Linked DNA regions of Homo sapiens: all the other regions are linked to region 2. Evidence: fine-mapped expression QTL. A gene starts in region 2. Each other region holds a variant in brackets. All regions are shown on one strand. Distances are between the middles of the regions.

Region 1 (8,191 bases), 21 kb before region 2:
TCTATAAGGAGAAACCTTTTTAGAGATCTTTACTTAATCTAGTGACAGTGAACTGTAAGCCAGGCTTTTGTGCTGATGGAATAAATAATTTTGAAGATAAAATCACACACTTTAGATATTTCCATAAGCTTAGCAAGTGTTCAAAGAAGAAACTTGACATTAGGTATCAGATTGTAATATTTATGTTTTGTTATTAAGATTTTTTTATTTTCAAAAGGATTCATTTCCATTGAAAGTTCGTGGCATCCATTTGATAAATGAACCAGTAATTTTCCATGCTGTCTTTTCCATGATCAAACCATTCCTGACTGAAAAAATTAAGGAACGGGTGAGTAAAATATATTCAAGTCTGTGTTCCTCTACACCAAACATTCCAACCCTTTTTAATTTAAGGATTGCTTTATCATCTTTCCTCGTACCTGCCCATCTATATCATTAGCCCAATATTTTGAATATTTATCTAACAAGCCAACTAAAAAAAAGTAAATTAAAATTTACTTTTAATTTATAAAAATCAAGTATATTGGTTGTAAGACTGTGGGGTAACTGGGCTTTTCATACACTGCTGGTTGGAATGCTTAATGGTATATTCCTATAGAGGGCAGTGTGGCAAAGACATCAAAATCACTGTCTTGAATTACCTATACCTAAACAAAATTACATATGCTAGAGGAGTCACAGCAGCAGAAGACTGAAAACCAGGAAGTGTTCACCATTAGGGCATTGGTTAAATAAACATCTACACAACAGAAAACAACGAGATTGCAGGATGTTTTGTAAACTGAAATAAACAAAATGTGGAATAGTGTTTATGGCATGCTACCTTTTGTATACAAAGGGGAGAAATAAGAATATATTTCATAAATTTACATTAAAAGGATATACAAAAAATAATATAAGTGGATATCTATAGGGAACAAGAGAAGAGGTGTGAACTACAGTAGATGAGAATAGGTTTGGGAGCAAGATCTCTCACTGTGTATCTTTTATCTTGTTTTGATTTGTAACCATATGAATTTATTATTAATGCAAATAAAAATAAACATTTTTCTTAAACAGTGAAGCCTACTTAACGGTTTCAGTGTAACTGAGAACCACGGTAACTGAGGTATATGACTTAATGTCATGCTAGTTAGAGCAAAGATACTGGATTTTTTCTTCTTTACCTAGCCTATGGAGCCTTATCTCAGAAAAAGCATCTCATATATCTTAGACTTTTTGAAAGGTTGAAAATAGAGTCTGCGTTCTCAAGAATGGCAACCATTCTAAACTAATCTGTAAAGAAGAATTTTTAGAGCATCTATTTAGACAAACATTGGCATCATCTAATGCCTTGAACACAAAACAATTTGTAAAGGTTTTAACAGTTTAAATCTAAAAAATCACTGAAATGTCAGCAGTGATAATATAAACTGTAATAGCACATTTGGAATTTTAGAAACGATGTTCTTTCATATTAAGAAAATATAACATCTTATACCTGGTCAGAAAGTTATGACCCTAGAGCTTCTTTAGAGGTTATGCAGTGGATGCTTCTGTTTGTCTTCAAGAACCACCCTTAAATTGCCTGCTTTAGCAAAAATGGCCACTTTCAGCTACTTTTCATTCTAGTATTTTTATACAAATCAATTTTGTTTGTTCATTTTTTTCTCTCTTCAGTGTAACTTGATAATATCTGGCTTCCCTCTGTTTAATTCTTAGAGATCTAAAAATAACTATTTCTATTTTGAGTAATATTTTAGATAAAAACAAAAACAAGAATAAACTGAACCTAAGAAATAGGAGAATATGGAGAAAAAAGCAAAAGTAAAAAGTTGAGAAGTTAGGGGAAGGATGTCAGTGAAAGTTAGTTGACGGGAAACAGACTTGCCAAAATAGGGAGAAAAAAACTCTGATCCAGCCACTTTTTTCCTTTTTAACTTTTTGGCAATGCCCCATACATTTTCTTATTTTGCCCCTTCCTGAGGAGATAGAATTTCTTCTCAATTACCTGATAATATTTTACATATTTCAGAAAAAATTAAAGATTGGCTTTGTGAGTTTCCTAAGTGAGTATAGGAAACTCATTTCATCCATCAAACCTCATATCCCAGCACATAATAGATGCTTATTAAATGATTGTTGAATACATAGAGGAACATTTTGCCCTAGAAAGTGAAAAAAGGTTATTTATTTATTTTAGCAGGTATGCTTTTGGTTCAAGTTTCTACGGCTTTCTCTTAACTTCAGGGCATTCTATGATCAATTTTATAGTTTAAAATATTTGAAAAGTTAAGGTTCTCAACTATCATAATTGTTTTTTAATACTTTTTTAAAATTTGACTTTTTAATTCTTTTAATTCTTTTTTTTTTTTTAGACAGGGCCTCACTTTGTGCAGTGGCACGATCTTGGCTCACTGCAACCTCCACCTCCTGGGCTCAAGCAATCCTCCTGCCTCAGCCCACCAAGTATCTGGGACTACAGTCCTGCACCACCACGCCCAGCTAATTTTTGTATTTTTTTTGTACCAGCCATGTTGCCCAGGCTGGTGTTGAACTCCTGAGCTCAAGTAATCCACCTGCCTTGGCCTCTCAAAGTGTTGGGATTACAGGCATGAGCCACTGCACCCGGCTGTCTCTTAACTTTATACTAACTAACAGTATCCATCGACTGTACCATATAAATTGTTTCTCATAGATTTAATTGTGTGCTCAGATATATGCTTCTACTTAATATGAATTAGTACCAGCTAGTACATTTTTATCGTGTATAGAATAGTCCCAAGGTATTAGTTTGGTAAGAATCACTTGCACATAAGGGAATAGAATTTATAAAATAACTTTATTTAATCTTTAAAAATTTACTTATGAAAGAGGAAAATAACTTTTTATAAATTTTATGCAGTTATAAGAATGCAAATCCAAGAAACAGTAAGGTTATTAGATCCACAGTAATACAACCTAAACATAAGTAAAATTATTAGATTCATAACCAGAGGAATAAAGGATGTGGTATCTATTTATACACTCCATTTTAGAAGTTATTAGAATACCTTGTTTTATGAGGTTGATTTTCCACTGGAAATGCATCTAATGCGGTTTCCTTCTAAAGTGTTTTGGCTATTTCAGATTCACATGCATGGGAACAACTACAAACAAAGCTTGCTTCAGCATTTCCCAGACATTCTTCCTCTGGAATATGGTGGTGAAGAATTCTCCATGGAGGACATTTGTCAGGAATGGACAAATTTTATAATGAAGTCTGAAGATTATCTCAGCAGCATTTCTGAGAGCATTCAATGAGAAGTTATGTCATGTGAATGGCTTCCTAACTAAAAATACATGAGTGATATCCAACCTGGTTAAATGAATGAAAGAAAAGGAGCAAATCTTTTAAACTAATGCTTGCCTGAACTTTAAAAATGTAGAAATCTTCTGACATGAGCAACACAGGTGTTTGGAAAGATTTTTTACTTTTTAAATGCTTTTTTCTCTACTTTTGAAGTAATTAAATGTCAGTACATTTTAAGAGCATAAAAATCGGCGATTTTGTACTTGAAGAGAACATGAAAGTTATTGCTAAAGTAGCTGCTCATGTGCATCTTTGTATGTTTCTAGAAAGTTATATTTTAAACAAGTTCTCTGATTAAATTGGTTTAGAAAAAAATTTAGAAATATTCCGCTTAAAAATACTAGCACAAGTCAGCTAATGATAAAAAAATTAACACTTGTTTTAAGTGGATGTCAGATTAAATTATAATTCATTATAATTAAAATCTGAATAGAGTTTTATGGTTATTCCTGTGGACCAGCAAGACATTTCATCTCAGGGAAATTTTATTTTAGTATATTAACACGATAGAAACTTTTTTTTTTTTTTTCAGACAGAGTCTTGCTCTGTCGCCCAGGCTAGAGTGCAGTAGTGAGATCTCAGCTCACTGCAACCTCTGCTAGGATTACATGTGCACACCACCACTCCTGGCTAAGTTTTGTATTTTATATAGAGATGGGGTTTTGCCACGTTGGCCAAGCTGGTCTCAAACTCCTGAACTCAAGTAATTTGCCTGCTTCGGCCTCCCAGAGTCCTGGGATTACAGTCGTGAGCCATCGCGCCTGGCCGTGATAGAAACTTTCAGCTGAGGAGTCTATATGCCATACTACTCTATGTGGCATCTTTAGGTCTCTGTGAAATCATGTTGATGTAATTGATTAACAAAAATAATTTAGAAAATACGTCAGGCACAGTTGATGGCTTCTCAATATCTGCTTTGCATTTTTAAACAAATCAAGAATGTAATTTTAACTTTTGCTTATGGTCATTCTTATGACTACACGGAAAGGGATGGAATCATACTTACTTGTCTTATACATGGACTGTTTTTAGTTAACAATAACGTAACTACACAAAGGAAAGGAAATGTTTACATTTTAAAAAATTACTGTCAATTACATCTGGTATTTTTCAGATTATGCATAAAATAATATGAGTTTGACTATTGTATCAGAATATTTTAATCAAATCCTGCAATTTATATTAACTTAAAAAAACATCTGGTAAAGACTGGGTGTGGCAGCTCACACCTGTAATCCCAGCACTTTGGGAGGCCGAGGCTGGATGGATGATTGCTTGAGCGCAGGAGTTCTAGACCAGCCTGGGCAATACAGGGAGACCCTGTCTCTATTTCAAAAATAAATAAATAGGCCCCGGTGTGTGATGTTCCCCTTCCTGTGTCCATGTGTTCTCAAAAAAAATTAAAAAATAAAAATAAAAATAAATAAATAAATAACC[G/A]GTAAAGATGTACTGTTTCTACTGCAGTTTATAATATTTCATTTATTAAGAAAGATATCATCTCAGCTTTCAAATTCAACATAGCCCTCAATTTATGACATAAGTTTTATACTTAGTATTTTATAATTTCTTAATTTTGTTATAAACTTGAAAATGTAGAATATGGGGTCCAAAATCTGTTGAACATTTGTTCAGCTAGTTAGGTTTCAACATTAATCATATACATTAATAGTATCTTTATGTAAGGATATGTGAAGGGTGTTTTTCTTTATAAGAAAATTAGTTTAATCAGGTGAGCTGATACTTAGGATTATACATATATCTATGATAAAATTGAAAGTAATTGTGGTTGTTCTTTAGAGAACGTGTTTTGATTTTGACTTAGTATTGGGAAGCTAACAACATTATAATTTTTATTAAAAAACTGGACCCTGGGCCGGGCGCGGTGGCTCACGCCTGTAATCCCAGCACTTTGGGAGGCCGAGGCGGGCGGATCACGAGGTCAGGAGATCGAGACCATCCCGGCTAAAACGGTGAAACCCCGTCTCTACTAAAAATACAAAAAAATTAGCCGGGCGTAGTGGCGGGCGCCTGTAGTCCCAGCTACTTGGGAGGCTGAGGCAGGAGAATGGCGTGAACCCGGGAGGCGGAGCTTGCAGTGAGCCGAGATCCCGCCACTGCACTCCAGCCTGGGTGACAGAGCGAGACTCCGTCTCAAAAAAAAAAAAAAAAAAAAAAAAAAAAACTGGACCCTGCCTGTTTTCTAAAAAACACTTTAAAGTATTTTAAAATAAAAGCATACTATTTAAAATTGTATAATTAAAAATAATAAAAGAACAAAATCACTTAAAAAGAATAAACAGTGTCAATAACAAAAAACCTCTGGCTTACCCAACTTTTGTTTCTAGAAGATTTATATCAATCACCAGTTCCACTTCATTTATTTTTGTTTATTTCAAACACTTTCTTATGACTCTGTGGAGGAGTGATTAGTTTAGTACCCAAATAAAGGATAACATTTTAAAATGTCCTTTAAATTAGATTTTTTTGGTGATAGGTTCCATAGTAAATAGAATTAAGATAAGTCAGTTAATCTAGGCATATTTTATGATGGAACTTTGAAGTGTTTATAAATGAAACAATTCACTGAAGAACATTAAAAGAAAATTGAAATGAATGGTCAAATTAATAAAGTGTCAAAGCAAATAATTGTCTAATTGTCTATATTACTTTAGTGATTATGCCAGAAGTGCCTTTTAAAAGGTTAACTGTATTATGTGCTCATTGTGTTACTCAACTGCACGTAATTTATTTGTTTTAATATTGTTTGAAAGAAAATAAACATCTTTCACATAAACCATAGTGTACAAGTTATTTTTTAATTTTAAAATGTAAATATGAGGCATTCTTTTTCAAAAACTGCTTTTCCTTACAGAAAAAAAAATCTTAGCACATCTATTTGTCCATCACTCCAGTGTCAGTTTTTTCTTCATAAGTTTAATGACAGGCTGGTATTCCAGCTGCTTAGTTCAACACCGTATTTCTCTAATGTCTTTCGCTGTACATAAAGGGGACCACAAACTAATTACTAAGCCATGGATAGTCAAGAAGTTAAAAGTTTTAAGCAAAAAATGCCATAGTTTGCCACTTAATCAGATAATTTTATTTTCTTTAATAGACTTCATTTTTTAGAGCAGTTTTTGGTTCTCAGCAAAATTGAGCATGAAGTACAAGATAGAGCCATTTAATTTCGAAACAATATGCTATTAGCCTAGATCATGATTTCATTTGTCAAACTAGATTTTTCTTACAGAAATAGCACTGAAGTCCTATTACAAATATCTTTATCTTTGCCAATCACCTAAATTAAGACTGTAGATCATAAAACATGTTAGACATATAACCAAGAACTCCAGCCAATTAGTCAGATGGTATTGTCTGAAACACTCTTTACTGGCCTTATATATTGAATTTTGCCATACCTAGATGCTGTGGAGGAACTAGAAATGAGAGCAATAAAATTAGGATTGGCAGCGGTACAATCCTACGACTTTTCTGGTTAGCAAGGACATACACCATCCTCCTCCCACACCCATACCTAGCACTCAACTGACCTCTTTCTGAGACAATCATATTAATCTGTTAAATATCTACTTTTGATAACACTGTAGAGTGAATTAAGTACTACTGACTAGGAAAATTAAACATATGCTACCTAGGAGAGGGAAAAATATACTCCAAATAGCTAGCTAAAGTGCAGTATATTGTAAGGGCCATTAAAGTGATTCCAATAAAGTGTTTTGAGAGTTTAACAGAAGGAAAGATAATTTCCACTTGGGGTATTGAGGATGTGTTCTTAAAGGAGGTATTATCTGAAGCAAAGCCTTTAAGATAGCAATGAAAACTGAGGAGAAGAAGGATACTTAAAGAAAATAAATTGTGTGAGCAAAGACTTAGAGATCAGAAAGAGTAAGGCATGTCTGAGAAACAGTAAATAGCCCTATATTTTTATGGCATGAGTTGTAATGTCTTCTTTTTCATTTCTGAGTTTGTTTATTTGGGTTTTCTCTTTTGTTCTTAGTCTAGCTAATGTTTTGTCACTTTTGTTTATCTTTTCAAAAAACCAACTTCTTGTTTTATTGATCTTTTGTACTTTTTTGTTCTCTATTTCATTTATTTCTGCTCTGATTTTTATTATTTCTTTCTTTCTACTAATTTTAAGTTTTATTTGTTGTTGCTTTTCTGGTTCCTTGAGGTGCATCATTGGGTTATTTATTTGAGATTTAAAGGGAGAGATAGACCCCAATATAATAATAGCTGGGGACTTCAACACTTTACTCATAGCATCAGACTGATCATCTAGACAAAAAATCAACATAGAAACATTGGATTTAAGCTGCACTTTAGAGCAAATGGTCTTAATAGACATATACAGAACATGTCATTCAACAGCTGTAGAATGTATATTCTTCTCATCAGCATGTAGAACATTTTCCAGGATAGACCATATGTTACGTGACAAAACAAGTCTGAACAATTTTTTTTTAAATCATACTAAATCTCTTTTCAGCCCACAATGGAACAAAACTAGAAATCAGTAACAAAAAAACCTTTGGAAACTGTACAAATACCTGGAAATTAAACAATATCCTCCCGAATGACCTATGGGTTAATGAAGAAATTAAGAAGGATATTTAAAAATTTCTTGAAACCAATGGAAATAGAAACACAACATACCAAAATCTGTGAGATACAGCAAAAGTAGTACCAAGACGGAAATTTATAAGCAGAAATGCCTACATCAAAAAAGCCCTCTGTTTTTGGAGGAAAGAGATGAGTACAGGAGAGTGGTTCATTTGCCTAGAAAGATGCATGTGAATCAAATTATAAGAGGCCTTGAACACCAGCTGAAAGGCGCTAAGG
Region 2 (8,191 bases):
AGGAGTGCCAACCAAAGCACTTCATCAGGGTGGTGGCAGTGGAGTCGCTTGCACATGCATGTCAGGCAAGATCTAATCATAAGCTGCACACAAGAGACTCACTTTAGTAATAAGGACACACATAGACTGAAAGTGAAGGGATGGAAAAGATATTCCATGCAAACAGAAACGAAAAGAGCAGAGGTAGCTACACTTATATCAGACAAAATAGATTTAAGTTAAATACTATAAAAAGAGAAAAAGAAGGCTATTATATAATAACAAAGAAGTTAAATCACCACAAAGACATAACTATTGTAAATATACACCCACCTAAAATCAGAGCACCTAAATACATAAAGCAATTACTAAATGATCTAAAGGAAAAAATATAATTTAATAATATTACAGTAGGGCTCTCCATATTCCATTTTCAGTAATGGACAGATCATCTAGAGAGAAAATCCATAAAGAAACTATGGACTTGCATTACACTTTAGAGTAAATAGACCAAACAGAAATATACAGAACACTGTATCCAATAGCAACAAAATACACATCCTTCTTAAGTGCACATAGAACATTCTCCAGGATAGCCCATATGTTAATGCACAAAACAAATCTTAACAAATTTAAGAGAATTGAAATCATATCAAGTATCTTTTGAGATCACAATGGAATGAAACCAGAAATCAGTAACAGGAGATATCTTGGAAAATACACAAATGTGTGGAAATGAAACAACATGCTCCTAAACAACCAATAGGTTAAAGAAGAAAGCAAATAGAAAATAAAAAATTACCATGAGACAAAAGAAAATGGTAAGACAATGTATCAAAACTTATGGGAGACAGCAAAAGCAATCCTAAGAGGGAAATTCATAGCAATGAACACCTATATAAAAAAAGAAAGGTTACAAATAATCTAACATTACCACTCAAGAAACTAGAAAAATAAGTATAAACTAAGCCCAATGATAGCAGAAGAGGGGAAATAACAAAAATCAGCACAGAAATAAATGAAATAGAGACTAGAAAAACAATAGAAAATATCAACAAAACTAAGTTGGTTTTTTGAAAAGATAAAGTTGACAAACCCATAGCTAGACTAACTAGGAAAACAAGAGCCTACTCAAACAAGATTAGAAAAGAAAGAGGAGACATTACAATATACATTGCCTATATCTACTATAATAGACATATATACACACACAAATCAATATGTGATATACCACATTAATCAAGGATAAAAATCATATAATGATTTCAATACATGCAGAAAAAACATTTGAAAAATCCCAACATCCTTTTATAATAAAACTCTTAACAAGGCCAGGCGCGGTGGCTCACACCTGTAGTCCCAGCACTTTGGGAGGCCAAGACGGGCAGATGGCGAGGTCAGGAGATTGAGACCATCCTGGCTAACACAGTGAAACCCTGTCTACTAAAAATACAAAAAAATTAGCCTGGTGTAGTGGTGGGCGCCTGTAGTCCCAGCTACTCTGGAGGCTGAGGCAGGAGAATGGCGTGAACCTGGGAGGTGGAGCTTGCAGTAAGCTGAGATCACGCCACTGCACTCCAGCCTGGGAAACTGAGCAAGACTCCATCTCAAAAAAAAAAAAACAAAAACAACAACAAAAAAAACTCTTAACAAATTGGGTATAGGTATAGAGGGAATGTACCTCAACACAATAAAGGCTACATATGACAAACCCTTAGCTAATATCATTCTCAACAGTAAAACACTGAAAGCTTTTCCTCTAAGATCAGTGACAAGACAAGTATGCCTACTCTCACCACTTCTTTTCAATATAGTACCGTAAGTCCCAGCTAAAGCAATTAGGCAAGAGGAAAAATTTGAAGCCTAATAGGAAATGAAGAAGTGAAAATATCCCTATTTTCTATGACATGATCTTATATATGAATCCACCAAAAAACTATTAGAACTGATAAATTAACAGTAAAGTTACAGAATACAAAATCAACATATAAAAGTCAGCAGCATTTTTATATAGTAATAACAAATTAAAATGAAATTAACAAGACCATCCCCTTTAAAATAGTAACAAAAAATTAAATACTTAGGTGTAAATTTAATGAGCAGGTAAAAGGCCTGTACACTGAAAACTATAAAACACATAAAAATACAAGTAAATAAGAAAATACAAGCAAATGGAAAGATATCTCATGTTCATGGATTGGAAGAATTAAAATTGGGAACATGTCTATATGACTGACCTACGGCAATATACAGATTCATTGTAATCTCTACAAAATTCCAGTGTCACTTTTTTCACATAAATGTAAAAAAATCCTTAAATTTGTATGAAACCACAAAAGACCCCACATACCTAAAACAATCTTGAGAAAAAAAATCAAAGTTGAAGCCATCATACTCTGATTTCAAGACATATTATAATTATAGTAATTTAATCAAACTAGCATGGTACTGGCATAAAATTACGGGCATTGACCAATGCACTAGGATAGAAGGCCCAAAAATAAACCAATACATATACTGTCAATTGATTTTTGACAAAGGTGCCAAGAACACACAATGGGGAAAGGGCATCTTCTTCAATAAACAGTGTTGGAAAATCTGGAAATTAGACCCTTATCTCTCACCATGAACAAAAATCAACTAAAGTGAATTAAGCAGTTAAATATGAGACCTGAAACTGTAAAATTACTAGAAGAAAACACATGGGAAAAACTTTATGACATTGGTCATTTACATTTAATATTTTACTATTACAAAAAGATGCTCCAAAGAGCATACTTACACATATTTTTTTTGTTCACATGAGCACGCATTAATCTAGGTACACACTTATATCCAGAATGTACTGGGTTACAGAACATTTAGATCTTCACCTTTACCAGATATTGCTTAATTTTTCTCAAAAATAGTTATAATAATTACAATTCCACAAGAAATGCAGAGAACTGTCATTTTACTACATCCTTGACTTATTATCAAAGGCTTACATTTTTGTCAATTTACAGAAACCTGCTTCCAAAGATGGAGGAAGCTGGGAGACCAAAGAGGCTGACCAATCGAATTTCTCAGAAAGAAATACTTAGTAGAGACAAACAGAAGCGACCCCTGCACTTGCCCTCCAGAAAGTATGCTTTATTTAGCAAGCCTCTAGGGTAAAGACAAGTGCAACTAGTTAGCTCTTAGACTATTGTGATCACTGGGGACGTTAGATAAGCATCTTTATGAGGGGTTATATATGTTATGAGCATTGTTTAAAGACCTTTGCTGCAGAACACCTCGGTATGCTGTGGGTCAAACATCAGTCCCCAGGATAGTTTTGCTTCAAGATGGTGTCACTCTTGCCAGGAAACAGGCTGTTTTTCTACACAGTCTAATGGATGTGACATATTATCTTGCATTTTTCTGATGACTACAGAAAGTTTGGTTTGCTTTTCACATTCTTTTTCCATTTTTCTATTGTGTCATTTTTCTTATTATTTCTTCGCATATTTTAGAAATACTTTATATTTTATAACTATATTTTCCAAGTTTGTGCTTTAACTTTAATTTTCTTATATAGTCAATTTTTAATTAACATTTTTATTTTTAATGTTTTATGAAACTCTTCCAACAGCCTAAGTTAGGAAGATATATTTATATATTTTCTTATCAAAGTATAATATTTTGCTTTCGTATTTACATATGCACTTCACCTCGAGTTTATTTTTGTGTGTAACGCCGGGTAAAAAATTTTTCCTATGTGGATAGTCAATTATTCTGGCACCACAAGTTCATATTTACAAGGCTACTTGTCTATTTAATCATGCTCAAAACCAGCTCGGCCCTTTCATGTCTTTCATCACATCCTTTGTTGCTTACCTCTCACCACACCCTTCTACAGAAGCGTTATTTTCTTGTTAAACCAGACTATTCACTGCATTTACTCTTCTTGCAACATGCTAAAATTGTTCCTGTTGTCTCTACGAGTCACGCTTTCTGCCTTTTTTCCTTACTGAATTTAAACCTCTTGTGAAAAAGACTGTCCAATTTACGTTTTCACCCTTAATACTGAGCATTGATGTAGCAGGTTTTCAAATATTCTTGTTTTATGCTGAATTTCAGTTGGCCCTTATAGATGGAAACTTTCACTGAGTACAAGCTATATATCCATGTATTTAGGAACAATCAACAGTTTTAACGAATAGGAACCAGTCATCTTTTCTGCCCCGGTGGATAGGCTTAGTGGTGGTCGGTGGATGGCGCTGACCGCGGTTGATCAGAGGAAGCTGACGCCGTTTGCAGGCGTGGCCTGGGCGTGCCCGCTTCAAAGTAGACGCCCGGAGTTGGCCCAGTTCTGACCCTAGTGATGCGCCTGTGCGTGTGTTCCTATCGCCGTCCCGTCTTCACTTCCTACAGATGCCGCGACCCCCCAAATAGCAAGTGTGGACATTCACATTCAGGGGCACAGGCTGTCCGTACAGCGAACGTTGTCACCATTCCCGGAGATAGGGCCCCGACCTTCAAGGGGGCGGTGCGGTTGGCGCGCAGTTCTCAGGCGCCTTCTAGAATCCCCTGCCAGCCTCCCCGCTGCCTGGTTACCAAACTCGGCCGGGGACACCCAACCTCCCCTCTCGAGGACCTGGGTTGGCCAGCCCAGCTTTGTACGGGTGACTGAAGTCCACATCGACGTAACAGTTGAAAGGGAAGGACGCGGAGACCACCCGGTACCCGCCCCAGGCGTTTCCAGAGTCTCCGCTTAGGCGGCCCGTGGGGGTCGGGGTCGCGGTCGCGGTCGCGGACCGGGGACAGAGCAATGGGGCGGGCGCGCAGCGCCGGCTGCACTCCCAGAGCCTCCCACCGCCGCCCCACGGCCGCCTAGCGCGCGCCGGGACTGCATTTCCCATAGGCCCACGCTGCGGAGCACCGCCCACCCGAGTCTCACGCGAGTGCGCTGCCGCGAGGTGTCCCTGCCGCAGCCCCCGCCCGCCCGCAGAGCTTTTGAAAGGCGGCGGGAGGCGGCGAGCGCCATGGCCAGTCCGGGCTGCCTGCTGTGCGTGCTGGGCCTGCTACTCTGCGGGGCGGCGAGCCTCGAGCTGTCTAGACCCCACGGCGACACCGCCAAGAAGCCCATCATCGGTAAGGAGGCTGTGCGGGGCCGCAGCAGACGGGGAGGAGCTGGGTGTTGGCGCTGGGCGCCTCCCGCCGCCGCGCTCCAGCTGGCGCGTCCCGCCGGGAAAAACCCCCAGATGTGCTTCGCTTTTGGTGCAAGGAGGAACCCGGGCTGGGCACCATTTAGGTCGTACTGAAATGTACCTGGTTGAGGTACCTCGTTCATTCCTTTAGACTCATATGACTCTTAAAGGTGGGAGGGAGGAGGGTGCACCATGAAGAATCCTGCGGATTTTCTTTTTTTGTACACAGCTAGGAATTTCTACTAAAATAAAACATTTCCTTTTCGCACATAGTTGGGAAGTTTTACTCATTTACATCTACAAATTCTGTACATGCATTGCATTCATCAAAATGTATTGATGGCGTATTTAAAATACCAGTGCATTGTAATAGAAAATCAAGAAATTAAGGTATAACTTGGATTTTGTCATGTTCAGTAGCAGAGGACAACAGTGGCTGATATCCTAATGTGAGTTCTATTTGGTGTTAAAATGCAGCCCACAATTTTTCGTTTCCAACATATTTGTGTTTTAAAGAGGTAGTAAAATCAGTCTGTGTTACCAAAACACACATTTGAGACAGGCCCAAGGAAAGCTACCTAGGAGAAATCATCCTGGGGTTAAAATTTGCCCAAAGAAATTTGTGTGTGGACATTAAGATTAGTTTTATTTTGGCTGTAGGATTATGCCTTTCATACTATTTTTTTCTATGAATATTATCACTGTATTCTGTAACTAAACAGAAAGTAGATGAATGTTTTTTCATATAGGTAGTGCCCAGTTTTCAAATGGGTTGCTTACTAATATTTGGAACTTATTTCATAGCTGTTTAACATGGTGATTTGATTCTCCACGAATTAACTCAAGCTGTAATTAATGTAACAGGTTGCATATTGTGTGTCCAGAGAAGAGAAAAAAAAGCAGAGGGGATTCTTCCCCTTTCCTAGAATCAGGGGTAGCCCTGCGTCAAATATTTAAAAAAGGGACTTTGCTTTTGGTCACTGAGATCAGCACAACATCGTTAACTGAGTACCGACTATGTACACAATCTTGCTCTGGGAAGTGCAAAGGATTGAAAGATGACAAGCCACAAAAGTTGTGAGATGGCCTTAAATTATTGGTGGAATTTTGGTCATATTTTGAGGGACAGGGAGAACAGCTTGAGCTCTTTTCCCAGGGATGGGAAAAGTGAATATGCGTGGGCCCAGGGGAAGGGGAGATGTTGGTGGAACTCACTCTGATGTACTTCTCTTTCTGGTACCCTTGTGCTCCCATGATGCCCCATGTCTCCTTTGTGGTACCTCACCCCATGTACCCTGTACCACTCCATTTCCTATGACACTCCTAGTTCTTCGTTCCCTAGCCAAACTTTGTTATTCCTTAGTGAAGATGATCTTACCTACCAGTAAGGAGAAAAAGTTTTACTGAACAAATTTTGGCGTTTGACATGTTAATCTGAATACCTGATGAATGCCAATTGTAAGAAGCTGGGAATACAAAAGTGAGTAATACAGACAACAGCTCTTCCTATCAGGTGGCCTACAGAGACACTGAAAGTGTTCCAAATGCTGAAGTGCTGAATAGGAGTAGGCACAGGTACTCACCCGACAGACGTGTTTTGATGTATACTGGTTGCTATACTCTGCTGGGGCTGGGTTTCACTGGTAAAAGGAGGCCAGAGAGATGGGTGGGGCAGAGCATACGGGTCTTACAGAGTTTATTAAAGTTTAGGGACCCACTGAGGTAGTTAAACAAAGTGGTGACACCTGCTTGCTGATCTATCGCTACCTGATGTCCTTTCCTATTGCTTTCTGCTTTCACTCACCTGGCTCTAATAATATGGATTCCTTGCAACGTGACAGGCACAAATCTGACTCCTGGCCTTTGCACTTGCTATTCCTTTGTCCTGGATTGCTCTTTTCCCAGATATATGAATGTGGTTTACTCTGTCACCTCTCTGAAGTCCTGGCTCAAATGTCATGTTTTACCTTCTCAGGGAGGACTTGCCTGGCCACCGTGTTGAAGAGACTGTCCTTTCCTACATAGATGGGCTCTCCTTCCCCACCGTCTTTCTCTCCTTAGTGCTTACGACCAGCCATCACTCTATATATTATGCCTTTTTGTCTTGTTTATTGTTTGTCCTCTTTCCCCTCCCTGCTACACCCTCGAATTAATGCACACAGGGCAGGGGCTTTTGTTTGGTTCACTCATAGTCATGTGTCCCCAGCAGCTAGTTTGTTGCCTGGCATGAGGTATGATTCAACAGTATATATTGAATGACTGTAGGAATAGGAATGGTGATATGATCCGATTTGCTTCTACATGGGGAGCTGCTTGGAGCTTGGGGGGGTTTCTTAAGAAAAGATATAACAAGACCTTCTAAGAGTCTATTATGATAGTGTGGTGGGGAGAGGGTAGATATTGATAGCTTGGGCTAAGGTAATGTTGGAGAGGTGTGGATGGAAGATGTTTTCACTCCTTTGCTTCGTTGTCAGGGAATCAGTGTGTCTGTGAGTATGTGTGGGAAAGGAGTGACAGCCTTGTAAATTTAAGGATCTATATTCTTTAGATGGATTCTAGGTCTACAGTTGTGTGAAGGCTGCAAGTGCTATTGTAAGCCTTCTTTGGGGGCTTATTTGGCCTCCCTAATGAGGTGAGAGATAGATCTACTTGAAAGTAAGATCAGCCTCCCCTGCTGCTTTCCCATAGGCTATGGGTGGACTTGGAGGAGAGACTTCCTATTTAATTCTGTGGATTGAAATAATAAAATATGATATTTTTGCTGTGATATATTTCAGTTTCTGAGCAAGAAGAAAAGGAATTTGCTTGAAACTAAACTTTTTTTTGTTATTAGGAATATTAATGCAAAAATGCCGTAATAAAGTCATGAAAAACTATGGAAGATACTATATTGCTGCGTCCTATGTAAAGTACTTGGAGTCTGCAGGTGCGAGAGTTGTACCAGTAAGGTATGATTCAGTGTTTTTTTTTTTTTTTTACTCTGTATAAAAAATTGCTGCGTACGGGTGCGGTGCCTCATGCCTGTAATTCTAGCACTTTGG
Region 3 (8,191 bases), 41 kb after region 2:
TTTCTCACTTGTGAAATTTTGTGAAACAAATGGAAGAAATGTCACCTGCTTCTAGGAAATTTAAGTCTTTTTTTCTTTAATATTTGCCTGTTCTACTTAAGTGTCACCTACCAGAAGTACACATGGTTAAGTCTTCATGTACATGCTTTCCACTCATCTACGTACTTAGGCTGCTGACAGCAGGATAATATTGAGAGCCACACTGAATGTGAGTCTGGAACCATAATCCTTAGGTGAATAAATATCAGTAAAAAGGGAAGGTCAGTGGATACCACCAGATGTGCATTTAATTTCTCAATTTTCTCAAACTCCACTGTGCACAATCAGCAAAAAACTATTGAAAAAGCTATAAAGATAAAAAATAAAATGCTGTATTTTGTGTATAAATGGCCCCTAAATGCAAACCAATTCTTCCATTTGGTGCTCATTTGAAGAGGACTGAGCTGGTTTTGGCACTACCATAAGCAGGCCTTCAGTGCTACTGCACCACCTGAATACACTTTCCTAGTCTGTTTTCTTCTTCATTCTCCTTGGTAACTGCTTCTCACCCTTCCTGTCAAATCTCCGACACCTTTCCTCTCTCCTCACTGTAAGATAATGAATTTCCTTCTGTTAGCTCAGAAATATTGAAAAGGATTAGAGGAGAACCCCCAACAAGCCCCACTGTTCAGTGCTCCCCCACTGTCATCTGTACACATATTCTCTCCCTTCCCTACCTGAAGCTCTGGCCAATCACTTATTGTCATCTGAGACCACCTCCTCTACTGTGCACCAGATCCTTTCCCTTTTCTACTATCCAGGGGCATCACACAAGCAAATGGCCCCCTCCTCCTACATCATCAATATTTACGTCTCTCCAGACTCATTCCGGTAATCACACTTACATACTATAGTACCTCCTACCTTTAAAAGTCCTCTGTTGACTCTGCACATTCTCTCATTATCTCCTTAATTTGCTGTATACCTGTACAATAAACCTTCTCGAAAGAGTCATCTATACTTGATGACTCTCGTTTCTCCCCTCCTATCCTCTCTCAAATCTATTCCACAGGACTTTGGTGTTTTCACCCCTGTGCTCTATAGAAATTACTCTTGTCAAGGTTACCAATGACCTCCAGGTGGCTGAATCCAATGTCCCAAGTCCCCGTGTAACTTGATCCATCATTTGGTGTGGTTGTCCCTCTTTGCTTCTGTAAACACTTTGGCACTAGGAAGACATGCTCCTTAAAATATTTTTATTATTAATATTATTTTTAATTGTAAAATTATAATTGTATACATTTATGGAGTACGATGTGATCTTTTGATGTATGTATACAATGTGGAATGATTAAATTCAGTTAAGTAACATCCATTACCTCATTTACTTATCATTTTTTAAGTGAGATGTCTGAAATTTACTCTCTTAGCAATTTTGAAACATATCACACACTATTATTGGCTATAGTCACCCTGCTGTGCCATAGATCTCAAAAACTTATTCCTCACCCCTGTAATGCTAGCACTTTGGGTGGCCGAGGCAGGCGGATATCTTGAATCCAGGAGTTCAAAACCAGTCTGGGCAACATGGCGAAACCCCGTTTCTACTAAAAATAGAAAAATTAGCCAGGTATGATGGCCCATACCTGTAGTCCCAGCTACTTGGGAGACTGAGGTGGGAGAATTGCTTGAATCTGGGAGGCAGAGATTGCAGTGAGTCGAGATCACGCCACTGCCCTCCAGCCTGGATGAGGAAGCGAGACTCTATCTCAAAATAAATAAATAAACACACAAACAAACCAAAAACCAAGAAACAACAACAACGAAAAACTTATTTCTCCTGCCTAACTGAAATTTTGCTTCTTTTGACTAGTAACTCCCCATTTCCTTTCTCACTTTCCCTCCCCACCCCTGGTAACCACCATTCTATTCTCTACTTTTATGAATTTGGTTTCTTTCGGATTCAACGTATAAGTGAGACCATGCAGTATTTGTCTTTGTGTGCCTCGCTTACTTCGTTTAACATCATGTCCATCAGCTTCATTCATGTTGTCATAAACGACAGAATTTCCTTCGTTTTAGAGGCTGAATAGTATTCCATTGTGTATATATACCACATTTTCTGTATCCATTCATTCATTGATGAACATTTAGGTTGAGTCCGTATCATGTTATCGTGAATAATGCTGCAGTAAACATGAGAGTGCAGCTATCTTTTCCACATATGTATTTCAATTCTTTTGGCTATATATCAAGAAGCAGAATTGCTGGATTATGTGGTGGTTCTATTTTTAGTCTTTTGAGGCACCTCCACACTATTTTCCATTATGGCTGTACTAATGTGTGGTCCTACCAGCAATACATAAGGGGTCCCTTTTCTCTACATTCTGACTAACACCACAAATAAACTCACACATTTATAGTCAGTTGATTTTTGACAAAGGTGCCAAAGACATACAATGGGGAAAGGGCAGTCTCTTCAATAAATGGTGCTGGGAAAATCAGATATCCACATTCAGAAGAGTAAAATTGGATCTCCATCTCACATCATATTAAAAAATAATCTCAAAATTGATTGAAGACTTAAACAGCAGAGCTGAAACTGTAAAACTACTAAAAGAATATATAGGGGGAAGCTTCACAACAATGCTCCCGGCAATAAATTTTTAGATAGGTTCCCAAAAGCACAGGCAACAAAAGCAAAAAATAGACAAATGGGATTTCATTAAACAAAGCTTCAGCACAGCAAAGGAAACAATTAACAAAATGAAAAGATAACTCAAGGATGGAAGAAAATATCTGCAAACCATATGATATAGTTTTGATATTTGTCCCCTCCAAATCTCATGTTCAAGTGTCATCTCCAGTGTTAGAGGTGGGAGATAGCAGTGTTTGTGTCATGAGGATGGATCCATTATAAATAGCTTGATGCCCTCCCCACAGAAATGAGTGAGTTCTCACTCTATTAGTTCACCTGAGAGCTGATTGCTTAAAAGAGCATGACGTCTCTCTTGCTTCCACTCTTGCTATGTGATGTGCCTCCTCCCGCTTTGCCTTCCATCATGAGTAAAAGCTTCCTGAGTCCTTTCCAAAAGCTGAGCAGGTGCCGGCACCATGTTGCTTGTACACCCTGCAGAAGCATGAGCCAAAAAACTGACTACCTTTTCTTCATAAATTACCCAGCCGTGGGTATTCCTTTATAACAATACAAAACAGACTAACACACCATACATCTGATAAGGGATTACTATTCAAAATATATAAGGAACCCAAACAAGTCAACAAGAAAAGCAATAACCCAATTAAAAAATGAGCAAAGGGCCTGCACAGACATTTCTCAAAAGAAAAATTTAAAAAGGCCAACAGGTTCATGAAAAACTGCTCAAAATCACTAATTATTAGGGAAATGCAAATTAAAATCACAATGAGATATCACCTTACACTGTTTGAATGGAAGACACACTTTTTATTCTCTTCTGATATCACTAACTGCTAGTTTTTAGTCTTAGTTGGTTTATCAAGCAGGAAATTTCATCCAGTTTGAGGTGGTGGGATTGTGATGCAGTGGTAGTTTTTAAAACATCTTTCAAGTTATCACTGAAAGACAAATGGACCAACCACCATAGTGAAAGGAAAAAATATGCATGACAATCATCCTCAAGAAAACTGGATGACAGAAAATCTTCCCAAATCACGAATTCATGCATATCAGCCAAACCTCTACCAGCAACAGGACTGGTGAGGGATCAGCAGTTGTATAGTGCAAGTGATAGAAAAATGAAAAGCAGCCAGGAGCGGTGACTCACACCTGTAATCCCAGCAATTTGGGAGGCCGAGGCAGGTGGATCACTTGAGGTCAGGAGTTCAAGACCAGCCTGTCCAACATGGTGAAACCCCGTCTCTACTAAAAATACAAAAATTAGCTGGTGTGGTGGTGAATGCCTGTAATCCCAGCTACTTGGGAGGCTGAGGCACGAGAATCACTTGAACCCAGGGGGTGGAGGTTTCAGTAAGCCGAGATTGGGCCACTGCACTCCAGCCTGGGCGACACAGTGAGACTCCATCCCTCCCTGTGGGGGAAAAAAAAAGAGAGAGAGAGAGAGAGAAAGAAAAATGACTACACTTAGCTTTTGCTTTATGCACTCATTTTACAACTTAACCCTCTGACTAATATTTGACACCATTATAGAAGACAGTGTCCATATGGCCTCTTTCATAAAATAGATGACAAGAACTTGGAGACACAAGGGGATGTAAAGTCTCTGAGCACAAACAGCAAATGAGTGCTGATGTGAATGGCCCTAAACATGAAATATATTGGAAAAAATGTACTGGGCTCATAGTCTCAATTTTAATAATTCAACCCAAATAACATGAGGCTTTCTTGATTCCAACTCAAACCTCATGTCAACCCAGTACCATACACAGAAAAACCCATAAATCTGACTCCAAAAAGCCCTAAGGGGTAATACAAGTCTTTAGTTGAAGTTTTTATTTTTATGAGGTTCTGGAGGAGGGGGCTATTGCATTGTCAAAAATACGCTCAGATTTCATAACACACTCACCATACATTGTTCCTCCTCCTCCTCTTTTTTTTTTTTTT[T/A]TAAAGAAAAGAGCTCATTTATTTGGTAAATTGAAAACTAATAATAGCCCTAATTAAACACTTTACTTCTCTCACTATAGGGCAAAGTAAGAACAAATGAAAGCATGTCAATCCCTAATGTTAAGTGAATTATCCAGAATGATATAATTTACAGCTGGTGGATCTGAACACTGACTCTGAAAACCCAGGCTCTTCTCACTCCATTACATCTCACTACTACCAAGGTGACCCTCAAGTGAATCATGAGTTCCAAATCCTCTTAATTTGTTTTTCTTTATCACTTTTATTTAAGTGCCTTGTGTATTATTGACCTTTTAGTTTTTTAATTAAAACAAACCCAACATTTTTTTTTTCTGTTCACCTCTTCATTCTTACTCACTGCCATGGTTTTAAAATCTCCTCTCAAATTTCTAGTTTTTTGTTTTTTCAGAAGTTAATCCAAATACACTCCCATTATCACCTGCCTGTCTTTATTATCACTTTCCATCTACAATTTACAAATTTTATTTGGAGCTTAATTTCTAGAAATGTGCCAGAAGCAACTTTTTTCCAAAGCTGGGTGGGGTGGGGGAAGGAATTTTTTTCTTAATATTTCTTTCAGTAAACAGTTCTATTGCCTCCCACGCTGGTCTTCATAAGACAGCCTCAGGGAGAACCTCTGCTAAGGCAGTGTGGAAAGGAAGTGTGGCGCTGGAGCCCCCACACAGAGTCCTCACTGGGGCACTACCTAGTGGAACTGTGAGAAGAGGGCCACCATCCTCCAGACGCTAGAATGGTAGATCCACCGACAGCTTGCACCGTGTGCCTGGAAAAGCTGCAGGCACTCCACACCAGCCTGTGAAAGCAGCCGCAGAGGCCATACCCTGCAGAGCTACAGAGGAGGAGCTGCCCAAGGCCATGGGAGCCCACCCTTTGCATCAGCGTACCGTGGGTGTGAGACATGGAGTCAAAGGAGATCATTACGGACCTTTAAGATTTAATGACTGCCCCATCAGGTTTTGGACTTGCATGGTGTCTGTGGCCTCTTTGTTTTGGCCAATTTCTCCCATTTTGGAATAGGAACATTTACCCAATACTTGTACCCCCCATTGTATCTTGGAAATAACTAACTTGCTTCTGATTTTACAGGCTCATAGGTGGAAGGGACATACCTTGTCTCAGATGAGACTTTGGACTTGGACTTTTGTGATAATGCTGGAATGAGTTAAGACTTTGGGGGACTGTTGGGAAGGCATGATTGGTTGTGAAATGTGAAAAGGACAGGAGATTTTGGAGGGGCCAGGGCAGAATGATATGGTTTGGCTGTGTCCCCACCTAAATCTCTTCTTGAATTGTAATCCCCAAGTGTCGAGGGAGGGACCCGATGGGAGGTGATTGGATAATGGAGGTGGTTTCGCCATGCTGTTCTCATGATAGTGAGGGAGCTCTCATGTGATCTGATGGTTTTAAAAGGGGCAGCTTTCCCCTGCGCACTCTGTCTCTCTCCTGCCACCATGTAAGCCGTGCCTTCATTCCCTTTCGCCTTCTGTCATGATTGTAAGTTTTCTGAGGCCTCCCCAGTCATGCAGAACTATGAGTTAATTCAACCACTTTCCTTTATAAATTACCCAGTTTCAGGTAGTATCTTTTTAGCAGTGTGAAAAAAGACCAATACAGACAGCTTCTAGCAATTTTACATCACTTTTATGTTCAATGGGAATATTTACAACATAGGTCAACCTAGTTATCATGTTAAATAGAAGGTGTGGACCAGTGGTTCTCAGTCTTGAGAGTGCATAAGAATCACCTGCAGAGCTTGTTCACAGACTTTTGGGCCCACCCAAGAGTTTCTGATTCAGTCTGAGGTGAGGCTTGAGAATTTGCATTTCTAACAAGCTCCCAGGTGATGCTGATGCTGCTGTTTGGGTACCTCTCTTTTGAAAACTATTATAATGTTTCTAATATTTTAAATATTTTTGGCTTTATGGAAGTATAGTTGAATACAAATTTTATATATCTATGGTGAACAACTTGATGTTTTGATTTACATATAAATTCTGAATTGATTGTCCACTCTTCTTAAAGTTTCTTATGTCATCTAGCCTTTTTTCCTTCCTACCTCTCTAAACTCCCAACCTACCTTTCCTTCTTCCCCCTTGTGTTTACCATTTCCTCCATCTTCCTTCTACCACATATCTCTATGACATTTATGATATAGATCAGTTTAGCTTTTCTTTGTTTTTAGTTCGGCAACAACCCTAGTCCCAGGTCAGCACAACAGACACAGAGCAGTGTGAACAAAGGTCCTCCCTTCCCTCTCAGGCACCAGCTGAGCAGCTTCTACTGTAGCATTCATCTATACCACTGTGTGGATTCTCATTCATCTACTCTCTTGCTTCTTAGCCTTGTTTAATTCCCCAGCCCTTACCATGCAGCCATTTTGAATAAACTCTTGTAAAGTACAGAGGACAGACATTTGAAATATCCACTTCTCACCATTAAGCATGCAACAGGATATGCTTCTGCCACGCCCATCTAATTGGGGTTTATTTGCTTAATATTAAAATGCTCTCAGATATACATAAGCCATCTGCTTTTCCTCCAGATTCACTGAGCCCTGATGCATTAAGCATCTGTAGAGCTATTTAATTTTATGTCATTAAGGATGGGAATGTGCAAATGTAAATACCAATTGGAAAGCTTAAGTAGTTTTTCAAATTTTTCAATCATGCTGTTTACTCTATTATTATTCTGGATTAGTCTACTTTAGGTACAATTTCAGAGTATCATCAAAGTCCTACTCCAATATTTAGATCCCAAATGACAAATTTAATGGCCTTAGTTAACACCCCAATGATGTAGGCTTAATTTTATGGTTCACCTATTTTTGCTATTTACTTTCCTGAGCTTGAGCCAAGCTGAAAAAACTATAAGAAAGCAGAGTCTGATTTTCCATGAAATAAAATGCCACCTTCCTTGTAAAGGGAAAACCTAGATTTTCCTAAGATGACACCTGAAAGGACTCTCCAGATGGAGATGGAGGAAATGTAGGTTACATTTCTCTTCTCTCGGTTAATGCCTTAGTCAAATTCCCTTCAAGGAGATGCTCCTTCTCTGGAATGTTCCAGTTAAAATGAGGAGCTGAAACTCTGCTCTCAGTAGCCTTTGACACTGCTGGTTAAAGACCATAACATTTAATGAATGAATGAATGAATGAATGAACTTGAAGTGTCCAAACAGGTTTTATGAGGAAAGCCTAAAATGTCTCCTTCCTTGATCTGTGGTGCCTAGCCACTCAATCCTTTTTCCCAGAGATGACCAGTGCAACTGATTTCTTTTACATCATTCCTGAGACATTCTACACTTAGACAAATCATCATACAATCCCTTTCACACTTTTCACGAACATGGTGGCATACTGCACCTACTTCTGCATGTGGCTTTGCCCTTTACCCTATCTTGGAAATACTCCAGCACACAGACTCCATTCTTTTCTGATAGCTGCATAACGACCCATTGCATGGCAGTACCATAATTTATGTAAGCAGTTTTCCCCTGGTAGGCATTTGGGTTGTTTCTAATCTTTTCTTACTACCAAAATGCTTCGATGAAAGCAGTGAATGACTTTTT

Direction of the effects. Positions count from the first base shown, and alleles are read on the strand shown. Sizes are in standard deviations (SD) of each study's normalised expression. Not every link is listed here.
As copies of G replace A in region 1, the expression in monocytes of the gene that starts at base 4,948 in region 2 goes up (moderate effect, 0.52 SD a copy in Quach 2016).

The links.
Region 1: its variant is fine-mapped to the expression of GGH in monocytes (Quach 2016, PIP 0.95).
Region 3: its variant is fine-mapped to the expression of GGH in whole blood (INTERVAL, PIP above 0.99).

The regions. Positions count from the first base shown.
Region 1 is chr8:63,056,343-63,064,533 of GRCh38, reverse strand. It overlaps TTPA (alpha tocopherol transfer protein), which reads left to right. Exons shown (of 5, transcript NM_000370.3): 4 at 218-328; 5 at 3,109-5,046. The coding sequence ends at 3,282. Among named protein-coding and RNA genes, the nearest start is that of GGH, 22 kb to the right of the region's middle. The variant G/A (reference allele first, on the strand shown) is at 4,769.
Region 2 is chr8:63,035,563-63,043,753 of GRCh38, reverse strand. It overlaps GGH (gamma-glutamyl hydrolase), which reads left to right and starts at 4,948. Exons shown (of 9, transcript NM_003878.3): 1 at 4,948-5,094; 2 at 7,984-8,098. The coding sequence starts at 4,986. RefSeq lists a silencer at 4,555-4,914.
Region 3 is chr8:62,994,149-63,002,339 of GRCh38, reverse strand. It overlaps a transcript of NKAIN3 not described here. Among named protein-coding and RNA genes, the nearest start is that of GGH, 41 kb to the left of the region's middle. The variant T/A (reference allele first, on the strand shown) is at 4,583.